Homo sapiens: one gene and its partners. The protein of the gene in region 1 interacts with the protein of each later gene in a biochemical or structural test. Each region holds a gene or a part of one and is shown in the gene's direction. Other genes may lie near its edges.

Region 1 (7,828 bases):
ATTCTGTTGTTGGGTAGAGTGTTCTATATTCTGTTGTTTGGTGGATTGTTCTATATTCTGTTGTTGAGTGGCGTGTTCTATGTTCTCTTGTTGGGTGGCGTGTTCTGTATTCTCTTGTTGGGTGGCGTGTTCTATCTTCTGTTGTTGGGTGGCGTGTTCTACATTCCATTGTTGGGTGGAGTGTTCTATATTCTGTTGTTGGGTGGTGTGTTCTATGAAACGTCAGGTCAAGTTTGTTAAGGGTTGTTAGTTTAGGTTTTCTATATTCTTAATTTTTTTCTTTTTTTGCTTCTTTCATCAGTTGCTATGAGAAAGAAGTGTTGAATTTTTTCAACTATAATTGTGAATTTGCCTGTTTCCCCATTTAGTCCTGTTGGTTGTTGCTTTATCTCTTCTCTAAAACTATATTTTAACTGACTTTTACTGATTTTGAAATGGATTTTTTCTTTAGGAAAACAAAGTGTTAAAATGTAAACCAACCAGAGATAATTTTAGTGAGCAGTGTTGAATTGAGCCTTCAAACTTGTTCATGAGTCGTGATCAATCTTTGTCACATTATTATACTAAAAACTATCTCAGAGAGGAAATTTATAGCCAGTTACAGTTTTTTTGTAGTTTGATTTAAAAGTTAAATTTATCACAACGAATCATATATTTTTCATGTTACTATTCCTGTTGTATAAAAATTTTACTAACAAATTTAAAAGGTGAGAAGAGATCAAATTATTTTGCAATTATAAAATTATCATTAGTTTAGCCTTTGAGAATATAGGTAATAGATTAAAAATTCATTTTAAAAATGATATAAACTACTTTTGAGACTTCCTCTGTAACTGACCTTTTCCATTTATGAAAAGCAGACACTCGCCTATGGGGACATGAACCACGAGTGGATCGGCAACGAGTGGCTCCCCAGCCTGGGCCTCCCCCAGTACCGCAGCTACTTCATGGAGTGCCTTGTAGACGCCAGGATGCTGGACCACTTGACCAAGAAAGACCTTCGAGGGCAGCTGAAAATGGTCGACAGTTTTCACAGGTAACTTAATGGAGATAGTTCTTAATAATTGGCTAAGATTTTTCACTGTTACCATCTCTAAATCATCTCTCTTTTCTTCCAAATAGAAACAGTTTCCAGTGTGGAATTATGTGCCTGAGAAGGTTAAATTATGACCGGAAAGAACTGGAAAGAAAAAGAGAAGAAAGTCAGAGTGAAATAAAAGGTTAGTACATGACATTTAATTGATTCGGTTTACTCCTACTTGCTGGTGTGTTTGGAGCCTCAGTGACTTCCTATTTTTCAAAAAATCAAGAAAGGCTAAATTTAAGTGGAGAAAACTAACTAGTCTAGTGTCATTGCAGAGGAGGGCTGGATGAAGTTGAGTGCTTTTGAGATTCTCTTCCACAGCTAGAGAACTGTTCCCTGTGTTCTCACACATCAGTCTGGAGGTTAAATGTCTCCGGCTAGTCGTTTCCTGTGAGTTGAGAGTTTTCCTTTGGTCATGCCCTGTGTACTCCTTCACTCCGAAATGCTGTTCCACACTGTTAGATAACAACAGAGCAAAGCTCACTTGATGATTCAAGTGTGAGAAATATGACTGGGGGCTTATCCAAGGGGTTCAGGAGAACAGGAGAGCACCGTGCAGTTCTGCTCCCGGAGGGGAAGGAGAGGCAGCGTCTGCATTTCAGCTGGTCCTTGAAGAAGGAGGAGGAGCTGCTTAGGGTAAGGAAAAGGCATTTCAGTTGGAAAACACAGGCCAGGGAGGCGTTAGAGGATGTGAGACATTCATCCAGAAGACGTGGAGTTGGTTCTCTTCTCCGTTGGGGAGTCCCTCACTCGTACTCAAATTTATTTGTTTGTTTGTTTATTTATTTATTTAATTTATTTTGAGACAGGGTCTTGCTCTGTAGCCCAGGCTAGGCTGGAGTGCAGTGGTGTGATCACAGCTCACTACAGCCTTGAACTCCTGGGCTCAAGTGCTCTTCCTGCCTTAGCCTCCCTAGTAGCTCCTGGGAGTACAGGTGTGCTCCACCATGCCTGGAATTTTTTTTTTTTTTGTAGAGACAGGGTCTCGCTATGTTGCCTAGGCTGATCTCGAACTTTTGGGCTCAGGGGATCCTCCCACCTTGGCCTTCCAAAGTGTTGGGATTACAGGTGTGAGCCACCACACCCAGTCAGAATTTGCTTTTAAAATTAGACAGTAAACATTAAGCTCAGAGTAATGACTCCCAGAATTCCTGGAATGCAAGGAAGTCACCAATAACAATAATGATAAGAAGAGGCCAGTCTTACTAACAGTGAGTAGGTGCCAGGTGGTGTTCTAAGTACTCAGGGGTTGCTTTCTTTCATCTTTACCTTAGCCCTGTCAGTCTAAGTGCTGTTTTCATCCCCACTTTATACTAAGAAAGAAACTAAGGATAAAAATATGGTTGGGAGATGGCCCAGTTGAAGGGAAGTCTACTTGTGATTGAGTTAATGTGAATCAGGAGAAAAGTCGTAAGTCGACATTTATACAGTGTGTGTATATGTATGGACTTTTATCCAGAAAAGGGCATTGGCAATGAAATATGTCCATCTGTTTTGTTTTCTGTATCTATTTTACATCTTTTTCCAATAGACAAAGATCTTTGGAAGTGTCTTTGGAAGTGATTGGTGATCATCTGCATATATTTTTAGAGTGGCTATTTTTAGATCTAATAGAGCAAATTGAATAATTTGTTAATTTGCATAAGATATTGTGGCTGGGCATGGTAGCTCATGCCTGTAATCTCAGCACTTTGGGAGGCCAAGGCAGGAGTATTGTCTGAGCCCATGAGTTCAAGACCAGCCTGGGGAACATAGTGAGACCCTGTCAGTACAAAAAAATTAGCTGAGCTTCGTGACACACGCCTGTAGTTCCAGCTCCTCAGGAGGCTGAGGTGGGAAAAATCACTTGAGCCCAGGAGGTTGAGGCTGCAGTGAGCTATGATGGTACCAGGCTGTATCCAGCCTGGGTGACAGAGCAGGACATTGTCAAGAAAAAGAGAGGAAAAAAAAAGATTTTCTGCAAAGTCTCTAATGTGCTGGATGATATTGTTAAGTTTCTCTCATTTTAAAATGAGACAAAGACTTCGAGATTAGAAATGAGAGGTTTCTGTTGAATTGAGCAAAGTGTTCATATTATTATGGAGCCAGCTCCATCCGTGATGAAGTATTTCAGAAGACTCTCCAGTCTGTGTGTGAAGCATGTTTATACATGTTAGGTATTCAAGTTCTTGCAGTCCTCTGGCTTCTGATCCCTGGATCCTCATCATCTTCTTTTCTCTAGAAATAATAACTTCATTCCTCTCGTGCTCACTGGAAGGATGAGTTCTAATGGGAGAGTCTCCCTGAGAGTGGAGCAGGGCCAGGACACCATTGTCTCAGTGCAGCAAATGGTTGTCTATTTAGCAGTGTCTCCCAGCACTTTTCTCAGGAGCCGAAGGATTAGGAACCATGGTAGGAATCTTTCTCCTGCATTACAGGGTACATGTGATAAAGATGGCTTTCTGAAGCCACTTTTATAATTGTCTTTATTCTTTTGCAGACGTGCTTGTTTGGAGCAATGATCGAGTGATTCGCTGGATCCTGTCAATTGGCCTTAAAGAATATGCAAACAATCTTATAGAGAGTGGTGTTCACGGAGCACTTCTGGCCTTAGATGAAACCTTCGACTTCAGTGCACTGGCACTGCTGTTACAGATCCCGACGCAGAACACACAGGTGACGCCAAACCTGTCTGTGTCTGCACTCATTGTTCAGTTGGCACCCTGATTATAGACAGCTAGTTATTCGAATAGAAAGAAACTTTAAAAAAAAAAAAAAAAAAAAACTTCAGACAACTAGTTTTTGGTTTTTTTTTTTTTTTTTGGTCTATTGGCTTTCCCTTTTCTGTTGGAAGCATGAGAGTCCTGCAATAAACCAGATAAGGACGATCTTTCATTCCAGCCCATGTGCCTGATCAGAAGAGTGACATATATTTAGTTCTTACATGGAAAGAGAAGTGTTTTTAGGTGTGCCACATGAAGATTTTATTAATTTTGTTTTTATGGGTAATTGCCTTATGCCATTCTTTTTGACTCATGGGCTCATTTGAAAAACAGGGAACTTTTATTCCTCTACAGAACATTGAATATGCCAGGCAAGGTGGCTCATGCCCACAATCCCAACACTTTGGGAGGCCCAGGTAGGCAGATTGCTTGAGTCCAGGAGTTCGAGACCAGCCTGGCCATCATGGTGAAGCTCTGTCTCTACAAAAAAATACAAAAAAATTAGCCAGGTGTGGTGGCACATGCCTGTAGTCCCAGCTACTTGGGAGGCCAAGGCAGGGAGATTGCTTGGCCCGGGAAGTGGAGGTTGTGATGAGCTCTGATTGCGCCACTGCACTCCAGCCTGAGTGACAGAGTGAGACCCCCATCCCAAAGAAAAAGGAAAAAAAAAAAAAAAAATTGAATATCTTTGGCCAATACCCCTGACCAACCCACACAACACACCCTTGTTAATATGACTCCAAGGATCATGGATCCCTTTCTGCAAAAGCCCATCCATTGACTCCACATTAGATGCCCTGATTTAAAATATTATTATGGTTCAATGTAGTCATAGCAGTGAGGGAGTTGTTTTTTTGTTTGTTTTGAGATGGAGTTTCGCTCTTGTTGCCCAGGCTGGAGTGCAATGGTGCAATCTTGGCTCACTGCACCCTCTGTCTCCCAGGTTCAAGTGATTTTCCTGCCTCATCCTCCCAAGTAGCTGAGATTACCGGCACACGCCACCGTGCCCGGCTTATTTTTGTATTTTTAGTATAGATGGGATTTCACCATGTTGGCCAAGCTGGTCTCAAACTCCTGATCTCAAGTGATCTGCCTGTCTCGGCCTCCCAAAGTACTGGGATTACAGGCATGAGCCACCACACCCAGGCCCTAATTTTTGTATTTTTAGTAGAGACGGGGTTTTACCATGTTGCCCAGGCTGGTCTTGAACTCCTGACCTCAGGTGGTCTGTCCGCCTTGGCGTCCGAAAGTGTTGGAATTACAGGCGTGAGCCACCAGACCCAGCCAGCAGTGAGGGAGTTTAAGTCTTGGTTTAAAAAACAATTACGATGCTAACACCCTTCAAATTAGATTTGATGAAAGTTTTATTTGTTTTTCTTTGGTTATTTCAGGCTCGTGCTGTCTTGGAAAGAGAATTTAACAACCTTTTGGTCATGGGGACTGATAGAAGGTTTGATGAAGTAAGTTTTTGGCCTAATGTTCTTTAAATGTCTGAAATGTGTGTAAATGTTTAAATGTGTGTGAAATGTAAGCTGTTATTATTATTATACTTGGGACATCATGTAGCTAGGCAGTCTCTCTGGATGTTAGAAGTCAGGCTTTGCTCTTATACATTTATTCACAAATGAGCCTTTAAAAACTAATACCTGGGCCGGGCACGGCGGCTCGCACCTGTAATCCCAGCACTTTCGGAGGCTGAGGCGGGCGGATCACCAGAGGTCAGGAGTTTAAGACCAGCCCGGCCAACATGGTGAAACCCCATCTCTACTAAAAAACACAAAAATTAGCCGGGCGTTGTGGTAGGTGCCTATAATCGCAGCTACTTGGGAGGCTGAGGCTGGAGAATCGCTTAAACCTGGGAGGTGGAGGTTGCAGTGAGCTGAGATCGCACCACTGCCCTCCAGCCTGGGCGACAGAGAGAAACTCCATCTCAAAAAGAAACCCCCTCCCCGCAAAAAAAAAACCCACAAAAGTAATACCTTCAAGAAGGTAGTTTTGTTTTTATTTTTGCTATTTAATTTTTGACATCCCTCAAAAATGGTTTTCACATCATAAAACATTGGTTGCAGCTTAGGAACAGAGTCTGTAAGTTGGGTTTTGGGGACCAGTAGTTATCCTACCCCAGTCCAGAGTGTACCCCCATACTCCTGTGCATGGGTGGGGTGGCATGTTTCAGAAGTATATTAAAAACACAAAATGTTAATTTCCCCTTAAAACCATGACTCATTTGTTCCACACGATTAGGAGTCTCTTAATTGGACCTTAAGAAAAGTTGAGTTTGACAGAGAGAATAGAAGACCACCTCTAAAGATGAAGCACTTGTTGCTATATCCTGGCATAAGATAAAATTGTTTCTAGTTAAAAATTGTTTGTAGAGCTGCGTGTGGTAGGGGCACACCTGTAGTTCCAGCTACTTAGGAGGCTGCGGTGGGAGGATGGCTTGAGCCCAGGAGTTTGAGGTTACAGTGAGCTATAATCACACCACTGCATTCCAGCTCGGGCAACAGATCTAGACTCTGTCTGTAAAAACATAAATAAAAATGAAAAATAAACTATTTTTAAGATAAATAAAAACGTATTACGTTGCAAGAAAGTGATTCCTGCAAGGTGTAAGAAGTAGAACATGATGCTGTGGAGAAGGAGCACATCCTCATGGCCCAGCACCGACCTCATTTCGCCAGCTGAGGCCCAGCCGGACCATCACCATGCCCCGTTTCACGCTGAAGTTCCAGGTTGGGCAATATATTGTGTGGTCATCAAGAAGGGATTAAATACATGTGGACAAGAATACATTCTCGAGATCAGCAGTCATTTTAAAGGACATGTAACTTTACATCTCTGACCTTTATTTTTTAAATGAATCTTGTTTTTTGTTCCTTAATTTACCAGGATGATGATAAAAGCTTTAGGAGAGCACCTTCATGGAGAAAAAAGTTTAGACCAAAGGACATTCGTGGCTTAGCTGCTGGGTCAGCAGAGACTCTCCCTGCAAACTTCCGGGTGACTTCTTCTATGTCTTCCCCCTCTATGCAGCCAAAGAAGATGCAGATGGACGGTATGTGATGGGTCACACTAACCTGTCACTTGTTGGGAGCATGAGCAGCTTTCTGTCTGGAACATTAATAATGATCTAAAACGGCCTATTTAATATGTTACAAGGCACTTGAGTATGGTTGCATGTCCAAATATAAATGTTTTTAAATTAACTCTAACATTTGTTTATAAAAGTTTAACCATAATAATAGAATTTTTAAAACACGCTTGTCTGGTTGAATCTTAGCATATTTTTCCAACTAATAAAGCTCAGTATTCGTCTGTGTTCTCAGAGAGAGACTGAGGCATACTTGTAAATTTGTGTCTGTGACAGGCCGTGCTAGAAAGCTCTTTCAGGAAATAGTAGTGTAGTAGTAGCTTCCAAACCACATAATTTACTGCTCTCCACACCAGAGAAAATAACTGAGTACATTTTTAAGAACACACAGTTTCCAGCTTGTGTGAGCTCTGCCTATGCTTTCTGCCCTCCCTGCTGCTGCTGTTCCGTGCAGTCACATGTCTACCCATTAGAGGGCAGGGAAGGGAGGAAGGTGAACCTCCAAGAAGTCCCCAGTGGAGCGAGGCAGCTATTGACTATACCAGCCAGAGAGAGAGCATCACTGCCATGATTTCACATGCAGTTTGGGATTTTCCCTTAGACGGCCACTTTGATTTGAGGTTAACAGTTGACCATGGCTTCCTTACAGGTCTCTCAACTCTGCCCTTGTACTCATCTAATGAAAGGCAGTGCACAGGTTGAAGAGCCAGGCTGCCTAGGTTTGACTCCAGCTCTGCCACTAGGAGGTGCATGACCCTGAACAAGTCATTTAACTACCCTGGCCTCGGTCTCCCCATCTGTAAAATGGTCGTCATGGTAGTGTCTTCCTCATAGAGTAGTTGCGATGATTGAATGCCTCATTCATTAAGCTGGTGAAGTTCTGAGCCCGTGTCAGTCGGGGCTGTTTGGCAGCCCCTGTGCTACACACAGGTCACTCATGCTCACTTCTGA
Region 2 (7,414 bases), on another chromosome or scaffold:
TCACTAAAGGTCTCTGTTGTACACATGGGGAAACCGAAGTTCAGAGAGGTTAAGCCACTTGATCAAGGTCACACAGCATGGGAATGGCAGAGCTAGGGCTCAAAGCAGGCCAGTGGCTTGGCTTCTCCTCTTAACCCCTATCTTCAACTCAGCAAGATTTGGGGTAGAGGCTGCCTGTGTCCAGTTCAATGAGGATAGCAATTGTAGTGGCCCCATGGGGCACATCCCAGGGCTGAGATAAGCCTCCTTGTGGTGTCGATAGGCAGGGGGACAAACAGGAAATATGAGCACCATTTTCCAGAGGAGACCAAAGCTCACAGAGGTTAAGGAAGGCACTGAGAGTCACAGAACAAGCCCTTGATGGCCGGCACACCCTCACCTTTCTTCTTTTTTTCCCCCTTCTCACCTGTGTCTGCTTTCGGGAACAGCAAACCCGACAGGTAAGAACCAGCCCTCCCCCGTGGAGGCTTCAGGCAAGAGGAAGAGGACAGGGAATGGGCTGATAGTGTGCCCACAGGAGAGGGGATGCCCGGCTGCCCCCACAGCTTGTACACGTAGCTGTACTTGGTCCTGGAAACCCTAGTCATACGGGTCCATGGTCCTTTTCTTACCATGCATTCCTGGGGCCTGAATTGTGTTCACACATGAACATGTGCCACTACTAACTGGACTGTTCCGCTTGCTTCTCCTAAAGTAAACGCAAGGACTCAGAACCCCGCACCAAATGCCTCCTGAACAATGCCGACCTCGCCCCTCACCACCCCAAGGACCCTGTGGAAATGAGACGCATTAACTTCCAGACTCCAGGTATGTACTTATCCCTGGTACCAGGGATGCCACCAACAGGGGAGATAGCTGGGGAGAAGCAGTAGCTGCCACCCTGGGGGCCCCTCATTGGCCCCCTCTGAACTATGCTTGGTGCAGCCACATTCTGGATTCCCAAATACCTCCAACCCTACATGGATCTGGGCTTGGAACTCATAGGTTGGTTCTGCTTACAACCAAGTGAGGCTTTTTTTTTTTTAAAGTTAACATTTAACCAATGGCTGCTGTCCTCTTCAGGAGCCTAAAGACGATGTTTAAAAAATGGAGAAAACACAAATAAACCCCTCATTTCTTTGGGCAGAAAGAGCTATTCTTCTGTTTATGTCTCTGGTTTTAATGTTCCTCGGTGGTGGGAGTTGAGGTTTGCCCTCAGCCATTTTCCACACTCCCTTGGGATATATCCCTAGCAAGGTACAGAAATTATACCTGCCCAATGCCCTGTACCTCTTCCCACCATGGCTGCCAGGGTTCATGCCTCTTTATAGTTCCCTGTAGATTAAAGTCACCTGACAGTCCAGGAGAACTGAATCAAGGCCTTATCCTTGATCATTTTCATGTATGATTCACAAACTCTACCATCTCCTCCCTCTTCATGGGCTCATGCCAGCTGCTTCTAACCAAATAAGGAATTTTTCATTTTACTGATGGCTGCTATTCTCCTTATGGGTTCACAGCCAAGTTACATCTGTCCTTCCAACTGTACCCGGTCTCCACTTCGTATCTCTGAACTGGTTCATATCAACTCTATTTTCCAACCAAATGAAGATTTTAAACATTTGTATTTCACTGATGTCTTTAGTCCTCCTTAAAGCCTCATGCATAGCCTCACATGCCATTCCTGATGTACTTTCTTTTTTTTTGTCTCTGGACTGGCTTGTGTCACTTCTGTTTTCATCCAAATGAGGAGTTTGACCATTAGTATTTAACTGATGGCTGCTGTCCTCATAAAGGGATCATGCAGGGCCTCATGTATCACCCCTCGTGTATTCTCTTCCCTTTCTTTCCTCTGTACTGATTCGTGTTGCTTTGGTTTTTCAGCCAAATGAGAATTTTAAATGTGCATGTAACTGACGGCTGCAGTCTCCTGAAGGGATCATGCAGAGTCTCACAATTCACCGCTAATGTGCTCCCATCTCATTTCTGTCTCTGGACTAGCTGATGTCTGTTGTGTTTCCATCCAAATAAGGATTTTCAACATGTGCATTTAACTGATGGTTGCTGTCCTCCTTGAAGCTCATGGCATGGGCCCATATGTCCTTTCCCTGCTCCCCCAGCTTCTCCTTCACCATCCTGCATCCTCCTTCCTCAGAATGCCCTCTGCTGACCTCAACAGAGGGGACCCAAGGCCAGGCTGGTCTGGGGGAGGGGATCTGTAGACAGAAGAACCTAGCACTTTGGAGTCCTTCCAGAGTGACGGGTCAAGACCAGGATTGACTGGTGTCCAGCCAGAGGGGTACACAGTTAGCAGCTATCGTGAGTCCTCAGGTGGGGGCCCAGGTGGCTGTACATACCCCCCGTTGTCCGCGTTGCTCTGCCCTTTGCATCCGCCAGCCAGTGAGGGGTGGGGGAGGCAGAGGTGGGACCCCCCCCTACCCCCTGCATGTTTTCATTTATTTATTGTTTGCTGTTTGCAGATTCAGGCCTCAGGAGCCCCCTCAGGGAGCCGGGGTTTCACTTTGAAAGTTAGTTCTTGTGTCTGTTTTTGGCTTCCTTTCGCCCCCGCCCCCGTTCATTTCCTCTTTGGTTTCTCCATCGTGTCTCCTGTCTCTGTCCACACGCCCACCCATCACCGGCCTTTGCCCACCTGTCTTGTGCTGGCTCCTGGAAGAGGGCAGGGGGTTGGTCCATTGGGCCCTCAGGTGGCTGTGTGTGACTGCTGTGTGTGTGGTGTGTATGTGTGTGTCAGGGATGTGGGTGAGGCACGTATGTACCCAGGACGTGCCCACAGGACAGGCAGGCCCCTTAGATGTGAGCTCTTGGGGGGCACCCAGGACAGCTAGGGACACATGGAAGTCTCAGAACATTAAATGTTACCAGCTGGTCTGGAAACCACCTGAGAGCTGAACATCCGGTACACAGGTCCCAGGAGAGGTCAGGGTTCTGCAGACCCAGATATCGGGAAGGGAGAACCGAGCCCACACCCAGCACCTTCGGCAGCCATCCTAGGGGGCTTGAAAGGATAAGAGCTCTCAGGCCAGGGCCTTCTTGCACCTGCTCCTGCCCCAAGCAAGCGCAGGGACAGATGGGGACCCCTCACTCCTCTCACGTACACACACACATACTGTTTCCCCTCCCTAGTCTGTCGCCTCTACCTGGAAGCGGATTTCGTGCCTCTGATCCCAGAGGGACAGAAAGGGGTGTCAGTCGCCCACCCAAGGACAGTATTTCCAAAGCACAGCCGGCTGCGTCTGCAATTTAATTTCTGTGCCACACACTTGCTTCTTGGCTCGAGGCACTGGGAGCTTGACATCCTCTGGGGTGACCCTTCTGCCAGCCCCTGCACCCCCAGCTTGGTTGGAAGGAAACAGGATGGGCCAATGCTGTGATCCAGGCCCCTCCAGGGGTGTCAGCCTCTGCACGGAGCAGAGGGCCTCAAACCTGCTGCCTTTAGAGTCCCCTAGGCCTGGGGTCCCAGCCCCTTCATGAGCCACCCTGAGTCTTCCCCTCCTGCCAAGCCCCACCCCGGCCATGCCCTTCTAACCACAGCTCACCCATCGCAGACTCACACGTAGATCACCCCCCTCCCCCGAGTCCCCGGCTGGCCCCCCAAGTGACCAACCCCGGCGGGGTCTGCTCCACCCTGTAGGCATGCTTAGCCACCCGCCAATTCCCATCGCAGACATGGCGGAGCACACGGAGCGGCTCAAGGCCAACGACAGCCTCAAGCTCTCCCAGGAGTATGAGGTGAGCCCACCCCCGCCTCCCACCCTCATCACCTCGGCCTCACAGGCACCTACCCTGACACCCGCGCTCTCCCCTTCCTCTGTAGTCCATCGACCCTGGACAGCAGTTCACATGGGAACATTCCAACCTGGAAGTGAACAAGCCGAAGAACCGCTATGCCAACGTCATCGCCTATGACCACTCCCGTGTCATCCTCCAGCCCATTGAAGGTAGTTCGGAGATCCCGGGTCTTAACCTGCCCTTCCCCACTGCATGGAAAGTGCTAGATCCCATGTCTCCCCTTGGGCCACTGAGGCCTGATTCTGGTCATAGACCTGGTCCAGCTCCAACTGGAGGCCACTGGGCATCTTTAGATATGTATTTAACTGATGGCTGCTCTCTCTAACATGGCTTCATCTGTCCTTCTGCATCAGTTGTGACCAATCAGAGCAGTTTTGCTGCCCAGGGGACATCTGGCAATGTCCAGGGACATCTTTGGTTGTCACAACTTGAAGGGAAGAAATGTTGCTGGCGTGGAGTGGGCGGAGGCCAGGGATGCTGCTCAGCACCCTGCAGTGCCCAGAATGGCCCCGCCACAGAGGGCGATCTGGCCCCAAATGGTGATGGCGCTGAGGGGGAGAAACTGTGAAGTACACGTCCCATGGTCACCTTGGGGACAATCTGGGAGCGGTCAGAGTGAACTTCCAGGAAGTGGTTGGCCACACAGAGCCAAACTAGCAAGACAGCCCCCACAGATCCCTGGCCTCTCGCCCTGGCTGCAGGCATCATGGGCAGTGATTACATCAATGCCAACTACGTGGACGGCTACCGGTGTCAGAACGCGTACATTGCCACGCAGGGGCCGCTGCCTGAGACCTTTGGGGACTTCTGGCGTATGGTGTGGGAGCAGCGGTCGGCGACCATCGTCATGATGACGCGGCTGGAGGAGAAGTCACGGGTGAGCCTTGGACCCCACGGCCCTCAAGCCCCTGCCAGTCAGCCTGTCCCTGCTGACACCTGTTCTCTTGCCCGATACAGATCAAGTGTGATCAGTATTGGCCCAACAGAGGCACGGAGACCTACGGCTTCATCCAGGTCACGTTGCTAGATACCATCGAGCTGGCCACATTCTGCGTCAGGACATTCTCTCTGCACAAGGTGGGGCCCAGGCTGGGGCTGGGGGCTGAGGGTGGAGGAATGTGTTGGAAGGGAGGCAGAGGGCCCCAGCTTCTACCCAGGGAGCTCCCCATGGGACAGAGAGAAAGCGGAGCGTGTCTACCCAGGCTGACTACATTCTCATGGAACCCACTTCCGTGGAGGGGGAAACTGAGGCTCAGAGAGGACACTGCTTGTTTCCACCCACGGCAGGAGAACAAAGCCGGCAGAGCCCAACTCAGCAATGAGCCTGATTTCTTCTTGCCTTTACTCATGCCCCAGGTCCTCTTTGCCCACTTGTCCTCTGGCCTCACCCAGCTTGAGCCTATGATGGGGGCCTCAGCAGGGCCCCAGCCCTGCCTTCAAGGAGTCTCCAGACAGAGATGGACAGATATTGGCAGCCCTGCAAAGTCAGGACTGGGATGGAGAAGATCTTTTAGATATGTATTTAACTGATGGCTGCTGTCCATAGTGCGGTTCCATCTGTTTTTCTCCATCTGTGGTTCTGAATTAGGACAATTCTGCCATCCAGGAGACATTTGTTATTGTCATGATGGGGAGGGGAGGTGCTACTGGCACCGTGATGTATCCCCAACACCCAGCCAGGTCATCTCACCGTCAGGCACCTGCTTGACCTAAGTGCCAGAAAACTGAGTACATGGACAAGAGTGAGAATTCTTGGTTCAATCACACACATTAAGCATATGTTATACATTAAGCATATGTTATATCTCACTCCCTAACCTGGACACAAGCACACAACAGGGACCTAAACAGACAAAACGTTCTGCCCTTGGGGGATTTAACAGTCTAGTAGACAAGACACAGACCACAACTATGAAATGTCAAGAAAGCTTACATGTCAAAGGAGAAAAATAAAGTGGAGGAGAAAAACAGTGTTAGGGACCTGGAAGAGGGTATGATGGGGAGATTTGGGGGGACAGCATTTCAGGTAAGAGGGTGCAGCCTGGGCAGAGGCCCTGGGGCAGGACCGTGCCTGGTCATGCAGGATCCTGTGGGCCTTGGGGAAGACTTTGGCTTTGACCCTGTGGGAGGCAGGAGCCATGGAGGGCTGTGGGCAGAGGAGGTACCAGATCTGACTCAGGTGCCCTCTGGCTGCTGCAGGGAGGACAGACTGGGGGGCTTGGGTGGGAGCCAAGGTCTGCGGCAAAGAGGGTGGTGATAGGTCTAGACCAGATTGGCCTGCATGGAGAACATGGAGCAGGTGGATTGGGATAGACTTTGAAGGCAGAGCCGACAGTCCCGGGTGAGGTGTTGGATGTGAGAGGGGAAGAGTTAAGGGTGACTCCCAAGCTGTGGCCAGAGTGCCCAGAAGGTTGGAGCCACCTTCAGCTAAGACGGGGGAGCAGGTTTGGGGAGAAGGCCAGATACAGTTGGCCACGTTGTGTGTGAGGCGTCCGCAAGACTCTACTTGGAAACCGTCCAGGGCCAGCTAGAGCCCAAGTCAGGCACTTGGGGACATGGTGACTGGGAGGCGCAGACATGGGTGTTTTTTTTTTTGAGATGGAGTTTCACTCTGTCACCCAGGCTGGAGTACAGTGGCGCCATCTCAGCTCACTGCAATCTCCACCTCCCAGGTTCAAGCAATTCTCCTGCCTCAGCCTCCCAAGTAGCTGAGATTACAGGCATGCACCACCATGCCTAGCTAATTTTGTATTTTTAGTTGAGACGAGGTTTCTCCATGTTGGTCAGGCTGGTCTCGAACTCCTGACCTCAGGTGATCCGCCCACCTCGGCCTCCCAAAGTGCTGGGATAACAGGCATGAGCCACCACACCCGGCCACTTGGGCATCTTCAGCACATGGGTGGCAGGTTGAGCCGGAGTGACAGGTGACATCCTTGTGGTCCCCAGAATGGCTCCAGTGAGAAACGCGAGGTCCGCCAGTTCCAGTTTACGGCGTGGCCGGACCATGGCGTGCCCGAATACCCAACGCCCTTCCTGGCTTTCCTGCGGAGAGTCAAGACCTGCAACCCGCCAGATGCCGGCCCCATCGTGGTTCACTGCAGGTACGTCCACCCCACTCTGCCCCATCCGCTTCCCCCCGGTCCCCGCAGCCCAGCAGCCCCTGAACGCCACGTGGCTGTCCCTGCAGTGCCGGTGTGGGCCGCACAGGCTGCTTTATCGTCATCGACGCCATGCTTGAGCGGATCAAGCCAGAGAAGACAGTCGATGTCTATGGCCACGTGACGCTCATGAGGTCCCAGCGCAACTACATGGTGCAGACGGAGGACCAGTACAGCTTCATCCACGAGGCCCTGCTGGAGGCCGTGGGCTGTGGCAACACAGAAGTGCCCGCACGCAGCCTCTATGCCTACATCCAGAAGCTGGCCCAGGTGGAGCCTGGCGAACACGTCACTGGCATGGAACTCGAGTTCAAGGTGCCAGCGGGGTGGAGGCTGCTGTGGGCGGGGTGGGGAGGAGGCCCAAAGAGCCGAAAATCAGGCCCGCCTCGAGCAATGGGGACTAGAAGGTGGTGGCAGGGTGCCCCTACCTACCTATCCACCATTGGTGCTCCAGCTGAAAGCATAGC
Region 3 (8,354 bases), on another chromosome or scaffold:
AGCTGACTTTCAATTCCGACAGTACTTGTGGTTGCAAGGAAGAGAAACTCACTAAAGATACTTAAGGAGGCAAAAACAAACAAACAAAAAAGAAGGTATCTACTGAAAAAACATAGAGGCCTGTCATGGAACCCAAGGATAGCAAGGGGGGGGTCAGACTTCATGAGTGATTAAAGTCAGGAAATGAGGTTATTGGAAGCCAAGGAACTAAAGAAATTGATGTTATTTTACATTATATGAACATTTAATCAACATTTTTGCAAAGCCCTGAAAGACTTGCCTGCCTTGAGATGACAGATTTACAGAAAATTATAAATTGAGAATTAAATGTTTAATAAATGTCTACAAAATATAACTTTATGGGTTTTCATATTTATAAACATTTCCTTTCATTTGCAAACAACTGTATGTTAGATTTTCTTCTCACCTTATAATAGTCTCTGAGTATGCTTAATGATTTTGGACAACCACAGCCACAAGTAAGTAAAATGAATGGTTCTTGCTCAAATAATTTAAAAAACTTTCAAGCATTTTCACAGAAAAACAAATGTGTGTGTGTGCATGTGTGTGTGTGTATAAATATATATATATTTTTGACAGAGTCTTATTCTGTCACCTGTGCTGGAGTGCAGTGGTGTGATCACAGCTTACTGCAGCCTTGACCTCCTGGGCTCAAGTGATCCTCCTGCCTTGGCCTCCCAAAGTGCTGGATTACAGATGTGAGCTACCATGCACAGCCAAAAAAATATATACTTTTGATGGTGCTGGATTTTGATATCTTTGCTATGATGCTTAAAACCTACAAAGGTCTTAAAACATTTCTGGCAAATATAATTTGAATGGTTTAACGGCACCAATTGTTGGCTTCCAAAGGATCAGGTGACTTTTTTCCAGTCCAACTGTTGTGGTGATGGGTCAGTTAATTAGGTGTTTTGTTTTGTTTTAAAGTGGCAGCTCAATCATGTTTCTTTTGAGCTAAAATCTACCCTGTTAAGACTTGCGCAAATGACCTCATGCCTAAGAAGAACAGACAATTATAAGTTGTTTAGGGATTTTGTTTCTTATTCAACTAGATTCTTCCTGTGGACATGCTAATGACTGTTCTGGGTTACTCGGCTATGCCCAGGACTCTAATCACCAAACTTGGTGACTCTCATATACTGTCTTCATCAAGTATCTGCTGTCTGACTTCAAAGCACATTGAAACTGCCATGTTCTGGACATCTCTACCATGAGGTCCTTGGCATCTCAAATACGAAAAGCCTTAAATTGAACCCATAAACTGTTCATAATTGGGTTTCCCATATGATCTATAAACTTTCCATAAACCTGTACTCCTCCCCAACCTTTATTTCCAGTTTTAGTGAATGGCACACTATCCACCTAGCTGCCCAAACCAGACTCCTGGGAACATTTTTGACTCCTCTCTCTTGCACATAGCCAATTGCTCACCAAGTCCAGTTTATTTTACCTCGTTTGTTCTGGAGTCAGACTTCTTGGGTTAGAATTTCAGCCCTGCGATGACTTAGCTGTGTGGCCCTGGTAAATTACCTTACCTAGAGGTGCCTCAGTGCCTTTGTTGGTAAAATAGGTGTAATAATGGTATATTTTAGGTCAATTGCGAGGAATAAGTCAGTTAATGCACACAAAGAGCTTAGAACAGGGCCTCGCACATAGTACTGATTTTGTCTAATTGGTATTTGTTCTTTGTTGCTGTTACTATATTCAAAATGAATGCAAAAAACCCAAAGAAACAAAAACAAAACCAACACAGGTTGTTGTTTTATGACCCTGCATCATTGTGCAAGAAGAACAGTTGTTTCCAACCTGTGCTCAGTTCCAAGGCCACTTGGCTCTCATATTCCCACACTGGCAGGCTTGTGAGGGTTGACAATCATAGGAAAACTGATTGGGCATTACGGTGCTTTTATATATAGTCATGCTTTTTCACTGTAGAGCTTAACTTTTTCTATTTGGTTCAAAAAATATGTACGGGTACAGAGTTTTTCTTTTGCTTCAGGGTTTGATATGGCTTGGCTCAGCCCCAAGTAAAGCTGATAGAACTGGCTGATGGTGTAAACGTGTGGTATAAGCAAAAGGAAGAATTAATGATACTCCTAGGTTTGGACCTGAGCAACAGGATGATTGGTGATGTCATTATCCTGATGGGTGACCTTGGGAGAGAGGAGACTTGGTGCATAAAAATCAAGTTTGAGATACTGGTGGGTTAAATACTCACACTGGGGAAGTCAAATAAGCAGGTAGATATCCAAGGCCTTTAGGTCTTTAGAAATCTCATTTCTGTCTACATGGCTGGCTGTTCTCCTCTTTACAGACCAACTTCCTTGGCAAGGATCTTAGAACTTACTTCCTGATGACTTTGGCATCATGGTTTTTGGTGCCATTGTTCTAATTTGGGCCACCACAGTCTACAATCTCACCATTCAATGCCAGCTGACTGACTCATTCTTCAAGCTCAGTTTGAAATACTGGAAGGAGAGCCTGTCATGGCTCATCCAGGGGCAGGTGTCCACCACAGCTCCCATCTATGATAGCTGCCACTCCAGGCTGAGCACACCATAGGGCAGCAAAGTTGGATGTGGCAGCAAATTTGACATTTCCTCAGGAAAACTTTTTCTGAACCCCAGGGGAACAGTTGGTTATCCTTCCTGCATGTTCCTGCAGTTCCCAGAACTTTGTCCCTTCATAGGCAGTATTGTTATTGCCTGCTTCTTGTCTGTCTCCATCACTAAACTGTACAGTCCTTGAGGCAGGGGCTCTGAACCCACAGGACCTAGGAGAAAGTAGATGCTCAATAAGTATTTGTTGAATGAATGAATGAATATGTGAGAAAAAAATATCTGCCATGAAAGTATGCTCTCTCTGACTTGCTTGAAAAGAGCTTGTGAAGATGAAGAAAGACATCAATAACTGTCAAAACAATACAAACCAAACCAAACCACCACGACAACAAAAAACCCTGGAGCAACAGACCATGTTTTAGAAAATATAATATGTTTTAGAATTTTCTGTCCTGAAGGGTTAGATCTCACAATGGCTACTTGTTAGCATATTGCGAGGGTGTGTTTGTTTGTGTGTGTGTGTGTTTGTGTATGTATTTGTGTACCTATACACACATATATGTGTATTTTAACCTAAAGTTAGAAAATGTTAGAGTTGAGAGCAATCTTAAGATTCTTTAGTTCCGCTTTTTATTTTCAGAAAACTAAGTCCCAGAGAGGATAAAGATGACTTGCTTAAGATTCCTATAACTTCCACTCTTCGTTTTACTATGTAGAGTCACTTTCTATTTAAAGTAATTATTCTTAACTTTTCTGGGTCAAGGACCCAATTTGAAAGAAATCTGTTGAGAACCATGAATCTTCTCTCTGTGGGAAAAATGTACATAAGCATGTACATAATAAATTGATCCCCTGAATGTCAAGGGTTCCTTTTAAAACCCACGGATCAAAGGAAAAGAGAATGGGTGGCCAACCAGAGTGAACCTCAGGCATTGATTTAAATAAATTCTTCATGGGATCACCCTGGTATGTTACCCAACTTTTCTGAAAGTTGGTAAACATCTTATAGAATATTTGTGAGAATAGTTGAGAAAATGTAAGTGCCTGCACAGAGGGGGGTACTAAAAAATGTTGGCCACGTTTCAAAAGATGTGGGATTTTAGGAATTCTCAAAGGACTCTCAACAAGGCTCTCATATACAACAAGCCTTTTGAGCAGAGGCTGTCAAGGATGTATGTGGGGAACAAAACACAATAGGTGGAGCTTGGTTTTGCCCCTGGAGCATCTAGGTCAGGAGAATGAGTGTTGATTTCTCAGAGAGAGAAAGAAGAGGATGAGGGCAAAGAGAGTCTATGAAAAACCTTAGCTACCAGAGGTGTACAGGCTTAAGGAACAGGCATTTGGGCTGGAACAGGAAGGCATCCTTGTCTCTCAGAGTCTGATTCCCTGAGCAGGAATCATTTAATATTTGAATTCCGGCGGGGCGCGGTGGCTCACGCCTGTAACGCCAGCACTTTGAGAAGCTTGAGGTCAGCGGATCATTTGAGGTCAGGAGTTCAAGACCAGCCTGGCCAAGATGGTGAAATCCCGTCTGTACTAAAAATACAAAAATTAGCTGGGCGTGGTGATGGACTCCTGTAATCCCAGCTGCTCAGGTGGCTGAAGCAGGGAATTGCTTGAACCCAGGAGGCAGAGGTTGCAGTGAGCTGAGATGGCACCACTGCACTCCAGCCTGGGAGAAAGAGCAAGACTCTGTCTCCAAAAAAAAAAAAAAAAAAATTGAATTCCTATCGGGGAGGAAAGAAGGATCCATCCTCTAATCGCTGTACTAATTCTATGCCTCTGCGCACCCAAACATCCCATGGCTGGATTTGCTTTATTTGTCTGAGCTTCCCAGCAGGAGAAATTTAGATCTGGCCACTGAAATTGCTGGAAGCAGACTCATCAGGACAGGAAGGAAATGACTGCTCTATCCCTGCAAATTGACTACTCAGTGAAAGAGACCAAGTTTAAAGATGCCCATGGCTATCCCAGTACCCTCCCTAATATAAAATGGCAGCAGCTGGGGCTCCAGACTTGTTGAGTGGAAGCTTTTTCCAATGAAAAACTTGTCCAAATCCTCTTGCTCATTACCTTGAGGTGTGTGTGTGTATCTGCCTGTGTGCGCGCGTATCAACTCAGACATCATCTTTCTACCTTAAATTGGGACAATGCAAGCACATTTCAGGGCACAGAAGAGGCACCCAGTGAATATGACGGATGCGATCTTTTCTCTTGTTCCTGTCTTTATCTTTCATTCTGTCCTTTCTTTGGGGGAACAATAAAGTGAAGATCTTATGAAATTCTTTCAACCTCCTAAGGAACATTAAAGCTGATGGACGGTGCCAGGGTATGGTAACCACGACCCCTTACTCCAATGCTTAACTTAAAAGATAAGTGCCATCCCTGCCCCTGTCACCAAAGCCACCTGACAAGTTCCCAGTGTGCCTGGCAGCTTTTGGAGGGGGGTACCCGGGAAGGGGCGTCGGGGATGGAAGATTGGGGACAGGTGCTTCGCGCCGCGGCCTGCCGGGAGGAGGCGCTGCGAAGACCCCCGCCCATGCCGGGCGCTTTCTGCTGCCCCCAGCGGAGGCGCCCGGGCCCCAGCCCCGTCCCCCCTAGCGGCTCCTCGGGAATGCTGGGAATGTGAGTCAGGGCCTCTGCGAGCGGGCGAGCGTGCCGGCCGGCCGGGTGGGGGCCCCGCCGAGCGCAGCGCCTGGCAGCGCCGCGCGAGCGCGCGTCTCGGGACTGCGGCGGGTGCCGCCCCCTCGGCCGCCGGCCCCGCCCGGCCCCGCGCCTGGCCCTGGCCCTCCGAGCAGTGTCCTCCTCCTTCCCTTCTTTCCTCCCTCCCTGTTCCCCGCCCCGCTTCTCCTCCTCTTCCTCCGCCTCCCGCTCCTGCTCGCTCGGTCTCCGGCTCCGGCGCCGGCTCCTGCTCCTCCTGGCCGCCCGGGGCCAAGGCGACGAGAGGTTGTAAAAATCCATGTGGGACGGCCCCGGGGCGAGCATCGGAAAGGTGAGACGCCGACGCCGGGGCCGGGGCCGCCTGGTGCCCGGCTCCCTCGGGGCGCCCGTGCCCGGGCATTCCTCGTGCCGGGTCCCCCTCGCTCGTGGGGAGCTGCAATGCGTTATCGTGGGGAGCCTAAGGGTGAACCATCCGCCTCCTACGGGGCTTTCTTGGGCGGGGGGAGGGATGGGGCGGCCTAAGGGAGGCTTTGCCCTGATGTATAAACCCCCGGATTGGAACAAGTGCACGGTTTCCTCCAGCGCGCGGGCGCCGCTCGCTAGCCCCGGCTGCCCGGGCCACCTCCCGCAGTCCCTCTCCGGCAGCCACCCTCACTGCCATCGCCTTTCTTCTCTCAGATCCCCCTCTTCTGCCTGGCGTCCCCTCTTGCCTCGAGGGGTGGGGTGTTCGCGGGGTCGGGGGTCTTGAGCAATCCTAAGCAGAACAAAGTGGAGAAAGGTGGAGCCCCCGCCCGGGGGTGGGGTGGCTGGCCGCCTGGGTGGGTTCAGAGGGGAGCATATTTTTTTTTAAAAAACCCGTGTCAGGGAAAATGAAGCCGATTTATCGGGGAGGGCTAGGGGATGGTGTATGAAAAGGAATACGATGTGAAATTGAACTGAACGGCATCCCTTCTCTCCTCCTCCCCATCTCCTAATTATACAAAAAAAGGGATACTTACGAAGGTGTACCTAATTAAAAAAAATACCGTACGAGCCTTTGAAAGATCGTCTTAGGACAGTGAAGATTAAGAGCTGCTTTGGTTCGGGGTAATAAAATAGCGCTCGTAAACTCTCCGTTCGGCCCTGCCTTATTTATTTTGTACTTAAGGGTCTCTGTTCTCCTTGCCAGAGAGGGAGGGTCCGCTCTTTTAGGAGTGGATCGATTTTAGGCGGCTACCTGCCTTTGCTGTATGAAAGGCAATTTACTCCCCGAGCGGTGAATTGTCGGTTCCCTCTGTGATTGACAGCCACACCTGCCACTTACGTGGGTAGAATGGGGACCGGTGGAACCCAAAGAACCAATCAATGCTCGGGAGAGGAGGGCAGCTCCCACTTGTCATGGTTAGTTTCCTGGTTGGCTCTTTAAATCAGTGATTTTACTTAACCATTGGTTTCCACCTGGTATGGGGATACAGCTGTGAGAGGCAGACAAGCGGGAAGAAAACTCTTTGAAAATGGACTTTTAGAAGCAAGTATATTTGACCTGTGTTTCCTTGTCCTCCCCATCCCTTACCCACCACCCCCCTGATTATTAGTTGTAGTAGTTGCGGATGCCGAGGCCACTGGCTTAAAAATGAAAATGAATCTGTGTAAAGAAGGAATTGGGGGAGGGGGTGTTAGAATTGCCCACCTATTTCTCCAGAATTGCAGTCTTTATAAGAGACAACATGTACCGTTGAGCTATCCGGGAAAAGGGTGTGGCACTTTGTCTCCTATGGTCACTCTTGTCCTTGTAAAGTCACATTGTTTCTCAGTATACAGTACTTGGGGCTTGGCTCTACTGGATGGATTTATAAGGTATTTTTGGAGCCGGCAAACGTTCTTTATGGGGAGTCACATGAATAGAAGGGATTCTTTTAGTTCTGACAGTTAACTCAACTTCTGGAAGTGAGGGCTGCCTTGTTCTCTTTTGCAGAATGTCAGTTCGGTGGTGGTGGGGTCAAGCCATTTTCTTTCCGGGGAGTAGTAGAGTTTGCCTTTTTCTCATGTAAGCCATCTTGTCTGTTTGCTTCTGTGCTTTAATAAAATACTTTTACAGTTTTGGCAGGGAGGGGTGTGGAAGGTGATGGTGTCATGGTTTTCACCAGCAAGACTTTCACGGGTGGATGAATCATGGGTGAAGGACCAGATCCATCTCAACTCACTACTAGTGAAAGCCTGATTTTTCAACACCCTTCTCCCTGAATTCATTAGAAAAATTACTGATTGATCCAAAGAGCTGTCACTTTATAGAAGTTGTACCTGGATGTGAACATAATTCTGTGAATTAAGCCTTTCATAAACAGACTGTGAGCCAGAATATACTGATTAGAATGGTTTTCATGTAGAAGCCGGGTTTGTCAAAGCAGTATTATTACTATTACTATCATCATCATTGTTATTGCATAGGCAAGCACTTTGTTGAGTACTTTATATGCATTATCTTTTTTAAACCTTGTGGAGCCCCTGTGAGGTAGGTACTATTCTTACGCCCAAATTATAGATGAGTAACTAGAAGGAATTCAGTATCTTGCCACAGTTTAGTATGAAAGCAAGAACCTGAGCCCGGGTTCGTCTTACCCAGAGCCCATGACCTTGGCCGTGGCCTTGACTTCAAATTTTGGTTGTGTAGTCTGCATGTGTCCAGTCTGAAGTGTGGGTTCTCCCAGCATACGTAGAGCTAACCATTTTAAGAGTCCACTGTGATTCTGACAGTCCTTTTATCAGCCTGTTTTGCCTTTGCATTTGAAGGCTGTGGCATGGGCCAATAGGCAAATTTAGTAACTCTGTTTATTATATATTTCCAGTAGAAACATAATAAAATATAAAAAATATAACACATAATAAAATAAAAATTTTGGCTCGATAAAAATTTGGTTCCAAACTTAATGATGATGACTTAAAAGAAGGTAAAACAAAACAAAATTCACACTCTTCCATTTTTCTTGACACCTTAAATTTCCAATTAGAGTTTTAAATAGATCTTGGTTGAATAAATGCTCTTAACATCCTTCAGTTGTCTCCCCACCAAGGGATTAGGGTTTTATTTTCTTTGTTATTTACAGAGACCCTTTTCCATTAGTGATTAGGTAT

The links. Proteins that work in one complex are often made in the same cells at the same time.
Region 2: the proteins of PPFIA1 (region 1) and PTPRS form a complex in vitro, tested with the Homo sapiens proteins (one study listed by BioGRID).
Region 3: the proteins of PPFIA1 (region 1) and ERC2 form a complex in vitro, tested with the Homo sapiens proteins (one study listed by BioGRID).

What each region holds. Positions count from the first base shown.
Region 1 is NC_000011.10:70,371,355-70,379,182, forward strand, and holds part of PPFIA1 (liprin-alpha-1), read left to right. Parts: intron 1-838; exon of another isoform or gene 839-857; coding exon of another isoform or gene 858-860; coding exon 861-1,036; exon of another isoform or gene 1,037-1,122; coding exon 1,123-1,220; intron 1,221-3,563; coding exon 3,564-3,739; intron 3,740-5,177; coding exon 5,178-5,246; intron 5,247-6,675; coding exon 6,676-6,841; coding exon of another isoform or gene 6,842-6,849; exon of another isoform or gene 6,850-7,117; intron 7,118-7,828. UniProt on the Homo sapiens protein: May regulate the disassembly of focal adhesions. May localize receptor-like tyrosine phosphatases type 2A at specific sites on the plasma membrane, possibly regulating their interaction with the extracellular environment and their association with substrates.
Region 2 is NC_000019.10:5,211,813-5,219,226, reverse strand, and holds part of PTPRS (receptor-type tyrosine-protein phosphatase S isoform 1 precursor), read left to right. Parts: intron 1-428; coding exon 429-440; intron 441-694; coding exon 695-807; intron 808-2,459; coding exon 2,460-2,507; intron 2,508-3,631; coding exon 3,632-3,729; intron 3,730-3,814; coding exon 3,815-3,938; intron 3,939-4,490; coding exon 4,491-4,666; intron 4,667-4,746; coding exon 4,747-4,866; intron 4,867-6,735; coding exon 6,736-6,890; intron 6,891-6,976; coding exon 6,977-7,262; intron 7,263-7,414. UniProt on the Homo sapiens protein: Cell surface receptor that binds to glycosaminoglycans, including chondroitin sulfate proteoglycans and heparan sulfate proteoglycan.
Region 3 is NC_000003.12:56,465,468-56,473,821, reverse strand, and holds the start of ERC2 (ERC protein 2), read left to right. Parts: upstream 1-5,354; 5' UTR 5,355-5,574; intron 5,575-8,354. UniProt on the Homo sapiens protein: Thought to be involved in the organization of the cytomatrix at the nerve terminals active zone (CAZ) which regulates neurotransmitter release. Seems to act together with BSN. May recruit liprin-alpha proteins to the CAZ.